5 separate regions of the Homo sapiens genome follow, and all the other regions are linked to region 1. Evidence: fine-mapped expression QTL. A gene starts in region 1. Each other region holds a variant in brackets. All regions are shown on one strand. Distances are from middle to middle.

Region 1 (4,123 bases):
TTGCATGTGGTATTTTATATATATACACATATTATTTGGACTTATAAAATACCCTATGTAATGAAAACTATGCATAAATATTTATAAAAATACCTTTTTCTAAGTAGGCCAGGAACATTTAATATTTTTCAATAAATTAATATATAAAATATATACATTAGTGCCAAATGGAACATATATTTTGAAATATGAAACCCAAGTAAAATGCTCAGGAATCTGGAGTAGAATCCAGGTATCTGCCAAAGGAAACTTTGGACGAGTTGTCTTTTGAAGAAGGGAAACAATGCTGGGTCTCTTATCTTCACGGACTGTTTTTGCTTGTCAAACTTCTAACATCACTTCAGCCGAGTTTCGTATTTGACTTCCAACCTCATGGCCATTTGACCTGCCAACTACTATTTTTCTTTGAGGCTTTTAACACCCCACCCAAGTATTTTGCTTTCCAGATTGTGTGCGTTTCCTTTTCACTTCACCTTAAAGTCAGCCTGGGTTTACAACATCGGCTTAAGGCGCACCCTCTAAGGTTTCAGACAGACCCAGGGCACCGCGGTGATGACCTGAAGCTGATATCTCTCGGCAAAGCCAAGGTATCCGGGAGGTTCTCCGCGTTGTGCCAGGATTTCCATCCAACCCGAGAGTCTCAGGGCAGAGGCCAGGCCCCCAGCGTCCGACTCCCAGGGGTCCCAGCCCCCTCCCCTGGCTGACCATGCGGGCTGGGACCTCCCAGCCGGAAAACACCGCCCTTTCCTGTCGCCTACTCCTTCCCCAGGCCGACGACTCGCGGAGGAGGAAGAGACGGAGGCCGATTAAGAAAATTAGCATTCATTAACCCGGTTCACGCTCCGGCCCCGGCGGAGGGGAGGGGCGCGCCGGGCGGCGGCGCTGGCGGTGGCCGGGTGACCGGCGGGCGCAGGTGCCACCGCGGCCTGAATTTTACTCTCTCGGGCCGGCAGCTGCGCCACTTGCGCCTCGTCGCGCGTCTGGGGCAGCCGCCACCGGCTTGCCCCAGCTTTAGGCAAATCCTTTTGAAAGACCCTGAGGGAGAAGAAACGCCTCCCTCTGGGTAGGAGAACCTGTAGCGTCTGCTGTTCGTCGCGTGTCCAGTTGCTCAGCCGGGAGCTCCGGCATCTTCAGGGCGCTTATTCCACTCTCCGGGTTTTGGCTGCAGCTCTGAGGGGAGCGAGCTAGAAACTGACAGAACGCGACCCTCCCCCTCCGCGCCCACCGGAGCCCGGGCTGAGAGGGACCTGGGGAGCTGCGGCCTGGCCGGGGCGGCGCACTCAGGTGGCCTCGCTTCCCTGCGGGTCACCGCCCGCCACTCGCACAGCTAGGTCGGCCTGTTGGGATCGGGAGAGGTGGGCGCACGAGTTTTAGTGCGGGAGTCCGGGGTGCGGGCGGAGTCCTATTGTCCCCGTGCACCCGGGCGGCAGCACCTCCGGGTCCCTCTTTAAACCGAGCGTCCGGCGACCTTTCTTTGTGCTTAGGGAGTCGAAAGCGGCATCTTCTCCGAGAGAAGTCGCCTACTGGGGGGTGGCGCTGGGGAGGTAACAATGGGCGCCCATTGTCCTCCGAGGGTCCAACGGTGACCCCCCCCCGCGCGCGCGCCCGGCCACCGGTTGGCCCCGGGCCAGGGCACAGGTACCGCGGCTGGGAGGGTCGGCCCCGCTGCCCGCGCCCTCCGCCCCGCCCCAGTGAGTCCCCGCGCCGCCGGCCCCGCCCCGCGCCGCCCCGCCCTCCGCAGGTTCAGTCCTCGCGTCCGGCCGCCCCGCGCTCAGTCGCGCGCACCTTCTCTCGCGGCCGGGGGACCGCAGCGCGGGGCTAGCCCGGAGACCCGGCCACCGGCCTGGGGCGCCTTCACGCCGTCTCGGAGCGGATAATGCGGTGAGCAGGCACCACGCCGGCAGACTCGGCTGGATCTGCGCACAGCGGCAGGGATTGCGTGCGCCCGCGGGAGGCCCGGGGCAGCGGCTGGGATCCTCAGCGGCGGCCGGTGAGTCGGGGCAGCCCAGGGCTCCTTCCTCTCTACCTGTCTGTGAGTCTGTCCCGCCCGCGGCCGTGGCCGCTTCCGGCGTGCGCTGGTGTTAGGCTGGGAAACCAGCAGGGAGTCGGGATACCCAGGGCATCGCTTTCCCATCTAGTGTCCAACGGAACGAAGGGGACATAAAGCAAGCCAGGAGGGGGTCCGGCGGCACGACCAGGACTCAGAGCTCCACCATTTGTGCCCACTACTTTTCAGGGTGGGGCTGCGCGGCCACATTGCACCCTCCGAGCTATTGGCAGAGCCATTCTGGGCGCGTATAGCATTTTTCCATCTGAGAACAAGCCGCGCTTGGCTACCGCGCCCCTCGCATCATGGATTGGTACCAGGGCCGCACATGGGTGCATCGCACAGCTCTGCCGTGGCATCGCCTGCCCGGTGCCCTCCTCTTTCTTAATGGAGGACATTGTTAGTGGGGCGCCAACCTGCAGATCTGGATATTGACTTTTTTGTTTTTTGACGGTGAACAGCTGAGACGTTTACAAGGTTTTTTGTTTTTTGTTTTCTTCCCTTTCTCCTTGAAACTAAGTGGCTTGACACAGACAAGTATCAGACATGTGAGGATGAATGGATCTGGCCATTTTTTCGTTATGAATTATTATACTCTATCCCTCTCTCGACTTTGGGAGGCATGTGTTTCATCTTATAAATAGAAAGTAGCATATTTTTGGGCAGGATCTCCTTTATACTGTGCAGTCTAGGAGAGGTCAGTTTAAAAATAAATATGCACTTGAATGTTACATTACTGAGAGCCAGGCTGTGGCTGGGACAAGCTGCGTGGACAGCAGCATCAAAGCCGGGAGCGCAGCTGTGTTGAAAGGAGTAAAAGCCCCAGAGTGCAGCCTAGGCTGACAGTCAAGTAATTACATTTTGTTTAAAAAAAAAAAAAAAAAAAGTGAGCGAATTAAAATGAGGAATGTCAGGAGGGTATTGCAACATGAATCTTTCCAGCCCTGGCGTATTTGGAGGAGTGGGCTGCTGCTGTGTGCTGAGGTTGTAGGGGGGCTCTAGGGAGGGAACTGATGAATGTGTTAGGGAGACAAAGATTCCATCCCCATCTCCCAGCTCTTAATTCTCACAATATCCAAGAGTTTCTTGGGAGTACTGCCTTTTAAAAGGAACAAAAATTAGGAGAGCAGCAGATGTCTGTATTTTAATAGCAAAGCCAGTTTTAGGGACTTCCTGTTAACATCACAGGGAGAAAAAAGACTCACCAGGAACCAGCGATGATGCCCCAAAGGTATCCCTAAGACAATTTAAAAGGCTCCTGTAATGTTCTAATTTACACAAGCTCTTTCATCTTAAAACCAGGAAATGTACCTTCTCTTCTTTTCTGGACAGTTCCAGAAGTCTACTCTTTCATACCCCCTGCAATTTGTGTGAGCTCTTATTGGTAGTTAATAAGCTACACAGGTATGTGTGTGATGCATACCCTTTTCAGAATAGATTTAGACACTCAGAAATAAGTTGGAGTAGTTGTGAAATATTTAGCATTTTCATATGTGAAATAAATGATAAAGGCCCTTTCTATAGTCAAGGAATGGTTGAAATTCTTCATAAAGTCTCCCAAAGAATGCGGGTTTCCCAATGGGCCTCACCCATTTGAATAAAACAGCACCAGCCTCTGGGCTCACAGATAAGAACTTTAGAGGAGAAATTTGGAAGCATTTCTGGATCCATGGCAGTTTCTGTTTTCCAATGGCATCATCTGCTAGAGATTTACATGATGAATTCTATGATTAGAACATGGTGCTGAGGCTGTGGCAGCAGCTACAGGCTTGAAATGAGATGAGCTCCTCTTTCCCTCAATCTGAGCAGTGAAATTGTTTCACGTATCTCTATGGAACAAGTAAAAGCAGCTAGAGTAATAAGTGTTGCACACTTTTTGCTTTTTATTGCACATTTAAGTGCGGTGCAAGATGAATAAATACAAAGCCGTAACAGTGATTGCAGAAGGGCTCACATGAGTTCATTTGCCCTGTCTGCGCTCCAGCCTTTCCTTTAATGTGGTGTTTTGTTTTATGTCCAACATGCTCACAAAAGCTGTGCTTTTTTCATGTATAAAGTTCCTGGTATTCAACAGTG
Region 2 (4,123 bases), 92 kb before region 1:
CCTTTCTGTCTGTCGAGCTCTTTTAAAAGAATGACTCAACTGTTTTTACAAAGTTGATACATGCCCATTACAATAAATTCAAGCCACACAGAAAACTACAAAGAGCAACAGAAAAATTATACAAACTCTTGCTGCCAATGAAAGAGCAGCTATTAACATTGGATAAAAATTGTCCTGCACATCTGTTTATACATCCATACAGTTTAGAAAATAAAAAGGTAGAATTTTGATGAAATAGAATCCATTTTTATAATAAAAGCAGCCATTAGACATATGAAATGTGATTTTAAATAAAAGGTATTAAATGTAAGTTTCCTTTAACAGAAGAAAAAGAAACTAAAATATAATTGGATACGCTGGATTTCAGGTAAATTTTTCTTCACAGAAGACTTTATTTTCTAACATCTCTCTAAAGCCAAGAAAAAGATTGTGAAAAACATTTAGACATTCATCATACTTAGCTTGTGTTGACTTATAAATCACCCCCAAAACACTGTGGCTGAAAACAAACACCATTAATCATTGCTGCAGACCTGCAGGTCTGTAGGGGTGGTCCTGCTGATATGGCTTGGCTGATCTTGGGTGAATGAGTTAGGACATGGGTCAACTGGAGCTTGACTGGCCTAGAATCACCTCACTCATGTGGTAGTTGATTATCTCTTGGCAGGGACAGTGGGGGTGACTTGGCCCTGCGATCTCTCATACTCCAGCAGGATGGCCCAGGCTTGTTCACAAAATGGTAGCAGGGCTGTGAGAAAGGGAGTGAAAGTATGCAAGGCCTCTTCGGGCTGTAAGCTCAGGGCTGCCATGAAATAATTTTCACCACATGCTATGGGTCAAAGCAAGCCATGAGACCAGCCTAGATTCAGGGCTGGTTATCCATATTATTTTTATGTACTGGTATTGGTCACTCAAGTAAGTTTTCATTAGAGCATTATTCTCTCACTGCAGATTTAAGCATTTGTTCTGGGATTGTTTTTCCTATTTCTTGAACATATTTTCTGTTTCTTTTGTTCATTTCTTCTTTGCAAACACCAATTATATATTTGTTGAATATTCCTTACCTATCATTCATGTCTTTTTCCTTATAATCTTTTTTTTATGATAATATGTATATAGAATGTCTCTCCAGATATTTGCAGGCCTGAATCTTTCATGATGTTATACAGGTTTCAGATAAAATATCCTGCAGTGAGAGAGACTTTCATGGTCACCCAGTACCTTTCATACTCTATTATGTTGTTCTGTTTTACTTTTTTTAATAGCACTATCAAAATTTATTCTTTACTTTTTACTATCCCCCATCCACCCTAGGTTGTAAGCTCCATGAAGGCAGAGATGTTGTCTTGGACACTGCTAAGTTCCCAGCATCTAGAAGCACTCCAGCCATGGAGGGGGTATTCACTAATTAGTTAAATGAATGAATGAACGAATGAATGAATGAATGATTAAAAGTACTGTCTGTTTTAAGTTAGGTTTATTCTAATTTCGGTTGCTTGTAGTATGGCTTTTTTTTTTTTTTTTTTGACGGAGTCTTGCTCTGTCGCCAGGCTGGAGTGCAGTGGCACGATCTGGGCTCACTGTAACCTCCGCCACCTGGATTCAAGCAATTCACCTGCCTCAGCCTCTCGAGTAGCTGGGACTACAGGCACACGCCACCATGCCCGGCTCATTTTTTGTATTTTTAGTAGAGACGGCGTTTCACCATGTTGGTCAGGATGGTCTCGAACTCCAGATCTTGTGATCCACCCGCCTTGGCCTCCCAAAGTGCTGGGATTACAGGCATGAGCCACTGCGCCTGGCTGTAGTATGGCTTTTTTTTTCTGTAATATTTTTTATTTACACTTATCTCCTATAATTTCTTTGAGATTATGGGGAACTCTACCCAAACTCTTTGTTTTCTTAGATGATTTCTTTTGTAGTTCTTTATCTTTGTCCTACATTCCTTTCTTCTTTATTTTCTCTCTCATTTCAAAGCATGTCTGTGGGATGGTTCTTTCAGATTGTCATTCATCTTGTATACTTGCTGAAAAATCATCCATGGAGGAAGGGGAGTAGTGAGGGATGTTAGTAAACTTGAACACAGTATATTGCCTCCTATAGCCTCTCACCAAATCTACTCTTTTCCTTATTCTGGAACTGTATATCACACCGCAATTTTTGTCATTGGAAAGGTTGGTAATTTGGAAAATGCAATTTTCCTCCACTTTCTCTGCCTTGGTCATTCCCACAGCAAGGAGAATGAATATTGGATAAAAATCGGGTACCACTCTGGTTCCTCTGCTTTTCTGCCTGCCATGTTCTGTGGTATCAAGTTGAGCCTAAAGGAAGAGTCCTCTTCTGCCATGGCCCCAGTACCCCTGGATCTTACCTCCCTTGAAGAATCACTGGATGGCATTTCAGGGTAATCTCACTTTCTTTTGGGGAAATGTCCCTCTTGCCCAAGGTCTGAGGATATGTTGTTAGTTTTTAGTGTTCTTCCTCATTTTGGTCCAGATTTCACAGCATTTGGCAGGTTTGCTACATAGTTTGT[G/T]GTTTAAGATTGCAGTCGTATCCTTATTTCATTGGCAACTAAAATATTTTTCTGTTTTTAGTTTGAGATTTTTCAAGAAGGGGAGGGTAAGAATTAATGCCTATACACCGTGATCCTTAACCAGAAGTCATTTTGTGCTCTTTCAACTGCATTCTGCAAATTTGTATTCCACAGTGCAGGAAAGATCGTAAGTGCCATTCACCCACCAGGTTTCAGACTTAGGTCTGAATTCTTATAAAGCTTATTTAAATTTTTGTTTCATAGCTTTGCATCTATCACTTTTCTTCTCCATTCTCTTTGACCTACCTCCAGTCTCCAGAATTTTGTGTTTGTTTTGTTTCATTTTGCCTTTCAGTGTACCTGCAATATTCTGTTTCCCTCTTTGTGGCAAGAACTTTCTTAGTTCTTCATATCTTTAGCTCCTCTAAGTTAAGCTGCAAAATTGTCTGGCCTCAAACAAGTAGTGGGTTGATAAGAACCACTACCACTGCAGTCACCACACTTATCCTCACCTCTGTTAATCAAATATTTACTGTATGCCAGTAATGCCACTAAAGCTTGTCCATCTCCTGTCTCTATCTCCTTACCACATTTTATTTTTCTGGAGAATAGTATTTACTACTACCAAATATAATATTATGCATTTATTTTTAGTCTAGCTCTTCTAGTAGGATGAAGCTTCACAAGGACAGGGATTTTATCCGTCTTATTCACTACTGTATCCATGGTGCCCAGTACAGAGTTGTGTCATCCTTCCAATAACCCAAAAAAGCCAATATAATTGCCTGCAATTGAAATGCAAAGATGTGAAAAATACCTTTTACTAAAACTGGCTCCAGAATTATGTTGAGGGTTGCCACTGTATTTGTTCAAGAAAATACTTTGAAAGATATTTTGGGGGTGGTTGAGATTTTGTGATGTCAAAAGAGATGGGGGCAGGAGAAAAGAGAAAAAGTTGTTGTTTTGTTATTGGAAGGAAAAGGTGAGAGAAATAAAAGAAGAGGAGAGGGAGCCAGAAAGTTAGAGGCTAGCCCTGAGAAAGAGCCAAAGAATTCCTAGCACTGCTGTATGGGAGCCGTCAGCCCTGTACCTCCTGTACAGGTTGGCTGTTTTCCTCTCAGGTCTCTCTTCAGCCCCAAATCTTCAGCTCATCTGCTATGCACACAAGTCCTAGGAGGGGGTTTCTGTGGTTCTTATAAAAGGGTCTGGGTTTCCCATTGCAGTCAAAGCCTCAAGAGACAAAACTGTATATATGGGATCGGGAACTGGGAAATCTTTGAGAGGCAGGGGTTTGGGCCTTTTTTTTTTTTTTTTTTTTTTGAGACGGAGTCTCACCCTGTCACCAGGCTAGAGTGCAGTGGTGCGATCTTAGCTCACTGCAACCTTCACCTGCCTCCCGGGTTCAAACAATTGTCCTTCCTCAGCCTCTCGAGCAGCTGGGATTACAGGTGCGCACCACCACTCCCAGCTGATTTTTGTATTTTTAGTAGAGACAGGGCTTCACCACATTCACCAGGCTGGTCTCGAACCCCTGACCTCAAGTGATCTGCCTGCTTGGGCTTCTCAAAGTGCTAGGATTACAGGCGCTAG
Region 3 (4,123 bases), 73 kb before region 1:
AGGTGAGTTCCCACTGCATCCTCAAATTTCTGAGACTTTATAAACTTTGTATGTCTACAAAGCAAGTACCAAATCACTGCAAATTGTACTCCATTAATTAAGAATAATTATTTTTGGTTGAAAGATGAGCCCTATCCCAGACCCACCACTTAACAGCCACATGATCTCGGGTAGCCTACTTTGCTTTGGATGGTCAGTTTCCTCAGGCATCAAATAGAAGTGGGAGTCCAGGTCCCAGTGACCTTAAAGAACTGTCATGGGACCAAGTAAAAAAACAAAGCATGTGAAGACATTTTGCAACCACAAAAGGCTAATTATAAGAATGAAGTTAGTCACCATTGTTTGTTAATACTTTTCTATGGGAATTAAAACACCTTTGGTTTGAAGTTAGAAAAAAAAAGAAAGCCATAAACTGAATAGATTGACTGTCTTTACATAAGTTCATTTTTAAAAACAGACAATTTTTTATAGTATGCTATGTGAAAATGGAAATTTCATACTGGGTCTCAAGATTTCTACTTGAGCTTGAAGGCAGTTTCCTTAAATAAGAACTGACTCCTTCATCAATTGGCTCCAACTAAATTATGCATCTCAAAAGAATCAGCCCCGAGTTCCAGAAACTAGAAAAAGAAAAAAAAAGTCTATAGTAGCTTCCAGTTTTTCTTGGGTCATTAGTAGGTGCGCTAGAGAATTTCACTATTTTTTTCTATGAGCATAGCTTCGGAATTACACAAAGTTTAACCCAATTACAGCTGCCACAACCCAGAAGGTAGGGAGGAGAGGGAAGAGGAAAATGAAAGCCAATGGTGAGGCCAGTCTCATATTTTCCTTTTTTTCCAATAAATAATAAAGTATTTGAGTGTTTCAATGAGAACCTGCAGAGCTTGGGGGAAATCTTGAAGGCTGGCAAGGTGGGGTATCTGAAAGGTGGGAGAGGTGGCCTGTGAACTTTATGGGGGGGCCTTAGGGTGCTCCAAAACACTGATGGGAAGATGGTTTTCTATCTCATGATCATGCAACACAGATGTGAGCTGAGAAGTTAATTTCATAGTCTTTTTTCTCTTTTTTTAAATTTAATTGTGTTTTTCTTTCCTCATCCCTGTGATCACTGGGAGATAAGCCTTTTTTTCTTTTTCTTTCTTAATTGACACATAATAATTGTACATATTTATAGGGCATATGTAATATTTCAGTACATGCATATAATGTGTAATGACCAAATCAGGGTAATTGTCATATCTATCAGCTCAACCACTTATCATTTCTTTGTATTGGGAACACTCCAAATCCTCTCTTCCAGCTATTTTGAAATACACAGTAAATTATTAATTATAGTCACCCTGCTATACTATGGGATACTAGAAGTTATTCCTCCTATCTAACTATATTTTTGTATTTGTTAATCAACCTCTCCCTGTCCCTCTTCCCCACTACCCTTCCCAGCCTCCTGTATTTTACTTTCTACTTCTATGAGATCAACTTCTTTAGCTCCCACATATGAATGAAACATATGATATTTGTCTTTCTGCACCTGGCTTATTTCACTTAGAAAAAATACTCATCATGGCCAGGCGTGGTGGCTCACGCCTGTAATCCCAGGACTTTGGGAGGCCAAGGCGGGTAGATCACGAGGTCAGGAGTTCGAGACCAGCCTGACCAACATGGTGAAACCTCGTCTCTACTAAAAATACAAAAGATTAGCCAGGCATGGTGGTGTGCACCTGTAATCCCAGCTACTCAGGAGGCTGAGGCAGGAGAATCACTTGAACCCAGGAGACAGAGGTTGCAGTGAGCTGAGATCATGCCAC[C/T]GCACTCCAGCCTAGGTGACAGAGGGAGACGCCATCTCAAAAAAAATTAAAAATAAAAATAAATAAATAAATAAATAAAATAAAATAAAAAGAAAAAATACTCACCATTAGTAATCAAGAAAATGCAAATTGTCAACTCTTGTTTGACAACAATTACCTGAAAGTATTTTGAGAGTAACGTCAGCGAACTCAAGACCTTCTACCTGTTGATAAAGCAAACAGTAAATACAGTAAATATAAACTGCCTAATGTTTATACTAAATAACTTGTTTCAAAAATATGCAAGCCATCATGCAAACATTAAACTAATAATAATAATAAATGTTGGTCATTCATTCCTTCTTAAAACATATCCATTTGCTCTACTGTCATAAAACTATCATTTATATTTAATTCATATTTCTTTAACATAAAGGATACATTTTGAGCACTCAGAAATGCTTAGACAGCATCTTTTACTTCAAAATCGCAAAGCATTTTTGGCCACAGTATTTTGTTTTCATAATTATAAATGAATATAGTGACACGCTTTAGGATCACTTAAGTTTGCTCTTTTGGGGACTCATGATGTTAACCACTTTAAGCTTTCTTAATGAAATATCATTGACTGAATGAGTAACCAGGTTAGTGACCCTGTCACGAATATCTTTTTTGTCCACTGAGCTGTGACATCATGGGGGCCCAAGGAGAAGTTCTGATTTGGGGATTCCTTTCCTGCTTCTGGGAGCTGACAGCAGAAAAGATTCCTAGAGGTAAGGTGGGGAGTGGAAGCAGAAGGGACAGAGATCAAGAAAAGAAATCTCATCTCTACTTCCCACCAGCAGTGTCCAGAGAGATGAATAAGAAGATTAACAGCTTCGCAGCCCGCTGAAGACGCAGCCAAGGCCAGACTCCCAGAGCCTGGACTTCTACCCTACCCCATACAGCCAGGGAGTTTGGGGGAGCCATAGCAAGAGGATTTATCTTCTGAGAGTTCAGGGGGAAGTTCTTCAGCTGCTCACCTTATGATCTGAAGACCCTCCCCTCTGGCCCCCTCACCTCACAGTCCCTCTAACTTTCTGTCCCCTGCAGTCTCCCAGCCTGATGGTCCTCCTCAGACTTCTCCTCTCGTACCTGGAGCTTGACACTGCTCTGCCCTGCTAAACCTGCATGAAGAACCACAAAGAACTGTGCTCACTAGAGTTCCTGATAACGTGACTGTCACCACAAAAGTAAGAAGGGTCAGAAAGATTCGATTGGCTCAACCATAGCTTCTTCTGAGTCCCTCATTGTACTTTAAATGGCACAAGCCACATTGGGGATAAAAGGGCACTGAAGAGTAAGAGAATGTCCACTATTCATGTTCATTACCAATGATGATAATGAGAAGCACAAATTGGAACTCTTTCTAGGATTTTTTTTAACTGCCTTCAGATACCCAGCCATCATCACCACCATCACTGCCACTACCATCATCACTGTCTTCATTATCATCATCATTATGATCATCACAGTTCACATGTACTGAGTACTTATTATACAGTGGGCAATATTTTAAGCTGTTATATATTTAAATCTTCATAGTAACCCTATGAGGGAGGTACTGTCAACCCCATTTTACAGATGAGGATAGGAAAACACAGTGAGTTCAGGTCATTTGCCCAGCTAGCCAATAGGAGAGCCAGGATCTTAAATCCCAGCTAGTCTGATTCTAGACCTGGAATCAGGGTTCATAGATTCCACTGCTATATTATATTGTCACAAAATACAAATAGGTTTTGAACGTTTGATATTATTTTTGCATTTAAAAAAACTTTTCCTTATTCACTATAATATCCAAAAGAGCTGATACTTTGTTTTTCATTATTATTATTGTTGTCATTATTTTAGAAATTTTAGATATAATATAATTCACTTTTGGAGCAGATTTTCTATATTTGGGTGGAAAGGACCAAAAAGGGCACATTAATTTCACAAATATAAAACACGTGCTTTTATTTTTCTTGGAGAAAATTGAAGCTATTATAAACCCGGATGTAGATGCTGCAGACCTTTTATTAAGTTCTGTTTTGTAATATAAATGGAATGTATTTTTAAGATGACTATATCCTTGCAGAATTAGAGCCACTTTTTTTGCCCCTTAATATGGATGGGAGCTGTGCAGTTGGGATAGCACATGAAGTGCGATTTAAGACTGGATAAGCCAGCATTTGGAGGGCAGAGCTCACCATCTGGGTAGTGGCAGGAGTTTCCCGGGAGGAGATGGACGTTTGCACTCTGGGTCATTCTGTGATAGGAAGAAAGCTGGAGACCAGGCCTGTGAGGTGGAGAGAGGC
Region 4 (4,123 bases), 49 kb after region 1:
TTCTAACCACATGCCTACTACCAGAAGTATAAGAAAACCTTTTTTTTTTTTTCTGGCTAGATCAAGAGCCAACTTGCTCTTCACCCTGTGAAAAGGGGAATTAGTCATGGGTGCTGAAAAAAGGAGAACATATTCAAAGTAAATATCAGTGCATGAGATTGCTTTTCACTCAGAATCTGAACACCCACAGTAGCCTGAATTTGTAAATATTTGCTGTCACTTATGTTAAAAAATATTGACTTCCTAAGCTATATTGCTACCAAAATATTTCTTTCTCGCATGCCTACCCAGACTTTTGGCCTATAGCTGGCAACATACCCTCTGCCTTAGGTTAACCTCATAGCAAGGGTAAAGCTTTAAGTGTACTTATGTGGTGAGAGAGAGAGCGAGAAACTTGAAAAAATAAAAATGGCAACATACCTAATGATAAAAGCACTATTTCCAAGTGTCTGAAGCCTATTATATGAGTTAAAAGTGAAACATCAGCCTAACTAATGCAAAAGCTTTATAGGGTCTGAGCAAGGATGACTAATCTCCAAAGCTGACAGTTTCACAGCTTACACAGGCTTCGTTCTGCTCAAGTGTGGGGAACACCCACCATCCCCACCATAGTCCAGGACATTATGGCATTGTACACTCATTCTCAGAACTTCACAGGGAAGATTATGGCAAAACTGGAATTCTCACTGAGGACACATCACTCTGAGCCCAATTGCCCACTGTCCCGCCTTCCATCCCCCGACCCCTGTCTTCTGGCTCCTTGAGCCTGCACGATCAATGTTTATTTTCACGTTGAATCAACCTGGGTTCAGAACTTTGAGCTCCACAAAGAAATCCACTAACAAAACCATAAGAAACAGTATCTTCACAGCAGATGCTACGGAAGAGTGGGGAAGAGTGAGGTAGTTTACACTGCCTATCTTATGACCACTATTTATCCCATCAAGTGCTTCTGGTCTCCCTGAAGGCACCTCCTAGGCCACTTGACCACTGTGAGTTATTCTCAGAGCCTAGCCTCTATGTATTACCCACTTCCAAAGCTGCTTCCACATTTTCAGGTATTTCTTACTAGCAATAGCCCATCTCCTCAGTATCAATTATCTGTCTTAGTTCATGTTCTGTTGCTATAACAAAATACCACAGACTGAGTAATTTATAAAGAAAAGACATTGATTTCTCACCATTACATGGTGAGAGGGCAAGAGCATGCCAGCTCAGATCTCTCTTCCTCTTCCTATTAAGCTACCAGTCCCATCATGGGGACTCCAACCCTGATGACCTTATCTAATCCTAATTACTTCCAAAAGGCCCCATCTCCAATCAACATACAAATTTGGAGATTAAGTTTCCAACACATGAAATCTGGGGACATATCAAAACCATAGCATCTCCCCAGCTCCCCCTTACTGTGACCTAACCAAAACTTTTTATTTTCTGAAAAGCTAATTCTTCTTCCTTGTTCCAGTTGAATAAAAGAGCCAAGACTTTCTAAGTAACAGGAGAAGCCCTTCTTGTTGGATTGGAGGCAGAGGCTCCTGAGATGACTAAAAGGATTCAGTCTTGCTCCCTGCCTCTCTACCTGGTCCTTCTATTTCTACCTCCCAGCCCAGCTTGAATCTTTGCAATAGCAGTTGGATATGGCCATGTAATTTGGAGGGCTCAGTGTAAAGGGGAAATGTGGGGTGGGTCCCCTTGTCAAAAATTATGAACAATTTCAAGACAGCAGCCACAGCACATTAAACCAAACATGGGGCCCTCTTGAGCAAGGGGACCCTGTGGGACTAGATAGGTCACACGCTCATGAAGCTAGCCCCAATAGGAAGAGTCACAGGAATTGCAGCCATTTACATGAAATGTGTGCCATTTGTGACTAATTACTGTGCAGCAGTCACACTTGTACATTTCATAATTATGTAAGTGAAAATATGTAATCATTACACAAACACTGCTTTGTAATAATACAATGCAAGCTATTGTTTTTACTAACTGTGGGGTTCATCTTGTTGAATGGCATATTGACTACAAAACCAAACCCTGTTCATATGCAGACAGCCTTCAGGGTACCTGTGGCAGTATACCTGTTCACAAATTTTAATTTGAAGAGGCTACGAATGATGTGACTCGAAAAGGAATTGCCTTAATAAACCACACCAACCATGACCACCAGTAATGAATTCAGGAACTGAAAATAAATCTGCCATTTAATTCAGAGCAAATTAGCTAACTGAAATGATACTATGGGTCATATTAAAAGAGGTGGTTCTTCAAATTTTGGATTTTATAGACCAATAAAATCTCTAAGAAATTTAGAAAATGAACACGAAGTTGACACATTTTAATTTTGCCACGTAAAGACATCAAAAGCCAT[C/G]AATTCATTTAAAAACGAACAATTATGTCAGAAAAATAACATTTTGAAATATAGTTCTGTAAGTTAAATGAATTTAGTATTATGAACAACTCACACGGTCGGTGTTTAGGTGAAAGCTTTTCCTCCATCAGCATACTGGGTAGACTGAGATTTATAAACTATAGGTCTAGGGGGCAGTGGCTACAGGAATGTTTATATAGAGGGCTGAAGTATTATTTTGCTTTAACTTGGATGATTCCTTAAGACCCATGGCCAATTCTCTGCTTTGGAGATGCAACTCATTTGGATATTGTCATCCAGATATCAGCTTCCCCTTTTCTTTGCTCCTCAGCTGCAATCCTGAGAGATTTGGTTAAACCTGGCCCAAACCCCAAATCTATCTCTTTGAACCCTGAGAAGGCCATCTCGTATTCTCTGAATAGCTGTGCCTTGGTTCCCTCTTTGTTTCCACGTTCCTATATTCACAAGGAATGGATAATTTGAGTCCATTCATTGTTTCCTTTTTTAAAAAAATCCATTCAGTTCAAGCACTTCAGGATTTAGTCAATGTCATTGAGATTTGCTGGGTGTGTGGTCTTCAGCCATCATCTTCAATCCACCTCCACTCTCCCTTTCCTCATCCTTATCTCTTAGAACAATAGCTAAATGCTCTTCCTCTTATGGTACAGCTTTGCCCCGAAGCAGATCCCTTGAGTATTTAGCATCTACGTACCTTCCAAATTAACAGGATTTTCTCCCTGAAGGAATTCTGGTGGGTTTAATGATTTCCCCATTCATCACTTATCATTAAGCAATTCCACATACAGAAACTTTCCCTGATTCCTTTAGCTTTCAAAGGTCTCCTGCTCCTCTGAATTTATGCAATGCTAAGGGTTTGCACCTACATCACAGAATCCTTTTTCCTGTTTATTTTGCTAGTGTTTCATGTCTATTTGTCATGATCCTCGATTAGGTTGTAATGTGTATGAGGATCAGGACAGTAATTCTTACACCTCTAGTCATGCATTCATTGAGCAAGCCTTTGGATGTCCACTATGTACCAGGCACACTTAATACAGATGGCAGCATGTCTCCTTGAGAAGCTTATAGCTTAGGAAGGAGCAGAAGCATATATATAAACAGATGAATTATAACACACTGTAGGAAATGCCATAAGAGTTGTGAACAAAATGCATAGGCACCTAGAAGAGGAAAACTACCAATAGAGCTGAAAAGAGCCTCTGAAAGATGCATAGGAGATCATAGGAGAGGGGTGTTACGCACGAGCACAGAGATATGAGAGAGCAAATCGTGTAAAGGATAAATTAAAAAGTTCAGTGTGGCCAGGGCTTGGAGCTTCTTGAGCAGATGGAAAATAATTAAAGAGGTTGTCAGGCAGGCTATAAAAAAGACTTCTGAATTTCTCCTAGCTCCTAGTCTGTTGCTGTGCCTAATAAATAATAGCTTGTACCTAAGAAATAGTATATCATGGTAGAGCACTGTACCATCTTCAGAGAACTTTTACACTTACGATTTTTGGTCTTAACTCTATAAATAAATGATATCTCCTTCAAATTTACGGATAATGAAATTGAGGTTCAGACAATTTTAGTGATGTGCTTCAAGTCACCCAGCTAAGTAACATCAGGTGAGACTCTAATCTAATCCAATTACCTCTTCTAATTCTAAATCCAAAACTCTTCACCACCCAGATCATGAGTGAGCAGGTCCATGACTGTCATCATTACACAGCCTTATAGAGTGAGATGCTGTATA
Region 5 (4,123 bases), 75 kb after region 1:
CTACAAAGGGAGCCCATCAGACTAACAGCAGACCTCTCAGCAGAAACCCTACAAGCCAAAATAGAGTGGAGGCCAATATTCAACCTTCTTAAAGAAAAGACTTTTCAACCCAGAATTTCATATCCAGCCAAACTAAGCTTCATAAGTGAAGGAGAAATAAAATCCTTTACAGACAAGCAAATGCTGAGAGATTTTGTCACCACCAGGCTTGCCTTACAAGAGCTCCTGAAGGAAGCACTAAACATGGAAAGGAACAACCGGTACCAGCCACTGCAAAAACATGCCAAATTGTAAAGACCATCAATGCTATAAAGAAACTGCATCAATTAATGGGCAAAATAACCAGCAAACATCATAATGACAGGATCAAATTCACACATAACAATATTAACCTTAAATGTAAATGGGATAAATGCCCCAGTTAAAGACACAGACTGGCAAATTGGATAAAGAGTCAAGACACATCAGTATGCTGTATTCAGGAGACCCATCTCATGTGCAGAGATGCATATAGGCTCAAAATAAAGGGATGGAGGAAGATCTACCAAGCAAATGGAAAGCAAAGAAAAAAAGCAGGGGTTGCAATCCTAGTCTCTGATAAAACAGACTTTAAACCAACAAAGATCAAAAGAGACAAAGAAGGCCATTACATAATGGTAAACGGATCAATTCCACAAGAAGAACTAACTATCCTAAATATATATGCACCCAATACAGGAGCACCCAGATTCATAAAGCAAGTCCTTAAAGACCTACAAAGAGACTTAGACTCCCACACAATAATAATGGGAGACTTCAACACCCCACTGTCAATATTAGACAGATCAATGAGGCCGAAGGTTAAAAAGGATATCCAGGAACTGAACTCAGCTCTACACCAAGCAGACTTAATAGATATCTACAGAACTCTCCACCCCAAATCAACAGAATATACATTCTTCTCAGCACCACATCACACTTATTCTAAAATTGACCACATAATTGGAAGTAAAAGACTCCTCAGCAAATGTAAAAGAACAGAAATCACAACAAACTGTCTCTCAGACCACACTGCAATCAAATTAGAACTCAGAATTAAGAAACTCACTCAAAACTGCACAACTACATGGAAACTGAACAACCTGCTCCTGAATGACTACTGGGTAAATAACGAAATGAAGGCAGAAATAAAGATGTTCTCTGAAACCAATGAGAACAAAAATACAACATACCAGAATCTGGGACATATTTAAAGCAATGTGTAGAGGGAAATTTATACACTAAATGCCCACAAGAGAAAGCAGGAAAGATCTAAAATCCACACCCTAACATCACAATTAAAAGAACTAGAGAAGCAAAAGCAAACAAATTCAAAAGCTACCAGAAGGCAAGAAATAACTAAGATCAGAGCAGAACTGAAACAGATAGAGACACAAAAAACCCTTCAAAAATTCAATGAATCCAGGAGCTGGTTTTTTGAAAAGGTCAACAAAATTAATAGACTTCTAGGAAGAATAATAAAGAATAAAAGACAGAAGAATCAAATAGATGTAATAAAAAATGATAAAAGGGATATCACCACCGATCCCACAGAAATACAAACTACCATCAGAGAATACTATAATCACCTCTATGCAAATAAACTAGAAAATTTAGAAGAAATGGATAAATTCCTGGACACATACACCCTCCCAAGACTAAACCAGGAAGAAGTTGAATCTCTGAATAGACCAATAATAGGCTCTGAAATTGAGGCAATAATTATAGCCTACCAATCAAAAAAAGTCCACGACCAGATGGATTCAGAGCTGAATTCTACCAGAGGTACAAAGAAGAGTTGGTACCATTCCTTCTGAAA[T/C]TATTCCAATCAACAGAAAAAGAGGGAATCCTCCCTAACTCATTTTATGAGGCCAGCATCATCCTGATACCAAAGCCTGGCAGAGACACAACAAAAAAAGAGAATTTTAGACCAATATCCCTGATGAACATCAATGCAAAAATCCTCCATAAAATACTGGCAAACCAAATTCAGCAGCAGATCAAAAAGCTTATCCACCACGATGAAGTCGGCTTCATCCCTGGGATGCAAGGCTGGTTCAACATACGCAAATCAATAAACGTAATCCATCACATAAACAGAACCAATGACAAAAACCATATGATTATCTCAATAGATGCAGAAAAGGCCTTCAACAAAATTCAACAGATCTTCATGCTAAAAACTCTCAGTAAACTAGGTATTGATGGAACATTTCTCAAAATAATAAGAGCTATTTATGACAAACCCCCAGCCAATATTATACTGAATGGGCAAAAACTGGAAGCATTCCCTCTGAAAACTGGCACAAGACAAGGATGCCCTCTCTCACCACTCCTACTCAACATAGTGTTGGAAGTTCTGGCCACGGCAATCAGGCAAGAGAAAGAAATAAAGGGTATTCAATTAGGAAAAGAGGAAGTCAAATTGCCCCTGTTTGCAGATGACATGATTGTATATTTTAAAAACCCCATCATCTCAGCCCAAAATCTCCTTAAGCTGATAAGCAACTTCAGCAAAGTCTCAGGATACAAAATCAATGTGCAAAAATCACAAGCATTCCTATACACCAATAACAGACAAGCAGAGAGCCAAATCATGAGTGAACTCTCATTCACAATTGCTACAAAGAGAATAAAATACCTAGGAATCCAACTTATAAGGGATGTGAAGGACCTCTTCAAGAACTACAAACCACCGCTCAATGAAATAAAAGAGGACACAAACAAATGAAAGAACATTCCATGCTCATGGATAGGAAGAATCAATATAGTGAAAATGGCCATACTGCCCAAGGTAATTTATAGATTCAATGTCATCCCCATCAAGCTACCAATGACTTTCTTCACAGAATTGGAAAAAACTACTTTAAAGTTCATGTAAAACCAAAAAAGAGCCTGCATTGCCAAGACAATCCCAAGCCAATAGAACAAAGCTGGAGACATCATGCTACCTGACTTCAAACTATACTACAAGGTTACAGTAACCAAAACAGCATGGTACTGCTACCAAAACAGATATGTAGACCAATGGAACAGAACAGAGCCCTCAGAAATAACACCACACATCTACAGATGATCTTTGACAAAAACAAGCAATGGGGAAAGGGTTCCCTATTTAACAAATGGTGCTGGGAAAACTGGCTAGCCATATGTAGAAAGCTGAAACTGGATCCCTTCCTTACACCTTATACTAGAATTAATTCAAGATGGATTAAAGACTTAAATGTTAGACCTAAAACCACCCTAGAAGAAAACCTAGGAGATACATTTAGGACATAGGCATGGGCAAGGACTTCATGACTAAAACACCAAAAGCAATGGCAACAAAAGCCAAAATTGACAAATGGGATCTAATTAGACTAAAAAGCTTCTGCATAGCAAAAGAAACTACTATCAGAGTGAACAGGCAACCTACAGAATGGGAGAAAATTTTTACAATCTACCCATCTGACAAAGGGCTAATATCCATAATCTACAGTGAACTCAAACAAATTTACAAGAAAAAAACAACCCTAACAAAAAGTGGGCAAAGGATATGAACAAACGCTTCTCAAAAGAAGATATCTATGCAGCCAACAGACACATGAAAAAATGCTCATCATCAGTGGTCATCAGAGAAATGCAAATCAAAACCACAATGAGATACCATCTCACGCCAGTTAGAATGGCGATCATTAAAAAATCAGCAAACAACAGATGCTGGAGAGGATATGGAGAAATAGGAATGCTTTTACACTGTTGGTGGGAGTATAAATTAGTTCAACCATTCTGGAAGATAGTGTGGCGATTCCTCAATATCTAGAACTAGAAATATCATTTGGCCTAGCAATCCCATGACTGGGTATATACCCAGAGGATTGTAAATCATACTACTATAAAGACACATGCACATGTATGTTTATTGTGGCACTATTTCACAATAGCAAAGACTTGGAACCAATCCAAATATCCAGCAATGATAGACTGGATTAAGAAAATATGGCACATATACACCATGGAATACTATGCAACCATAAAAAAGGATGAGTTCATGTCTTTTGCAGGGACATAGATGAAGCTGGAAACCATCATTCTCAGCAAACTATCACAAAGACAGAAAACCAAA

Alleles and levels. Positions count from the first base shown, and alleles are read on the strand shown. Sizes are in standard deviations (SD) of each study's normalised expression. Not every link is listed here.
For the expression in subcutaneous fat of the gene that starts at base 1,774 in region 1, C is the low allele of the variant in region 3 and T is the other (moderate effect, 0.47 SD a copy in TwinsUK).

Evidence for each region. PIP is the estimated chance that this variant, and not a neighbour inherited with it, causes the effect.
Region 2: its variant is the best candidate, but not a certain one, in a credible set for the expression of CDC42EP3 in whole blood (TOPMed, PIP 0.61).
Region 3: its variant is the best candidate, but not a certain one, in a credible set for the expression of CDC42EP3 in subcutaneous fat (TwinsUK, PIP 0.68).
Region 4: its variant is the best candidate, but not a certain one, in a credible set for the expression of CDC42EP3 in whole blood (INTERVAL, PIP 0.70).
Region 5: its variant is the best candidate, but not a certain one, in a credible set for the expression of CDC42EP3 in whole blood (INTERVAL, PIP 0.56).

What each region holds. Positions count from the first base shown.
Region 1 is chr2:37,669,293-37,673,415 of GRCh38, reverse strand. It overlaps CDC42EP3 (CDC42 effector protein 3), which reads left to right and starts at 1,774. Exons shown (of 2, transcript NM_006449.5): 1 at 1,774-1,990. RefSeq lists silencers at 796-965, 1,186-1,255, 1,266-1,325, 1,496-1,985.
Region 2 is chr2:37,760,793-37,764,915 of GRCh38, reverse strand. The region is part of intron 2 of LOC107985869 (a long non-coding RNA gene); the gene reads right to left. Among named protein-coding and RNA genes, the nearest start is that of CDC42EP3, 91 kb to the right of the region's middle. The variant G/T (reference allele first, on the strand shown) is at 2,534.
Region 3 is chr2:37,742,340-37,746,462 of GRCh38, reverse strand. LOC107985869 (a long non-coding RNA gene) reads right to left here and starts at 3,034. Exons shown (of 3, transcript XR_001739409.2): 1 at 2,847-3,034; 2 at 1,966-2,011. The variant C/T (reference allele first, on the strand shown) is at 1,809.
Region 4 is chr2:37,620,662-37,624,784 of GRCh38, reverse strand. No RefSeq gene overlaps it. Among named protein-coding and RNA genes, the nearest start is that of CDC42EP3, 49 kb to the left of the region's middle. The variant C/G (reference allele first, on the strand shown) is at 2,369.
Region 5 is chr2:37,594,442-37,598,564 of GRCh38, reverse strand. All of the region lies in intron 1 of LINC03063 (long intergenic non-protein coding RNA 3063), which reads right to left. Among named protein-coding and RNA genes, the nearest start is that of LINC03063, 34 kb to the right of the region's middle. The variant T/C (reference allele first, on the strand shown) is at 1,838.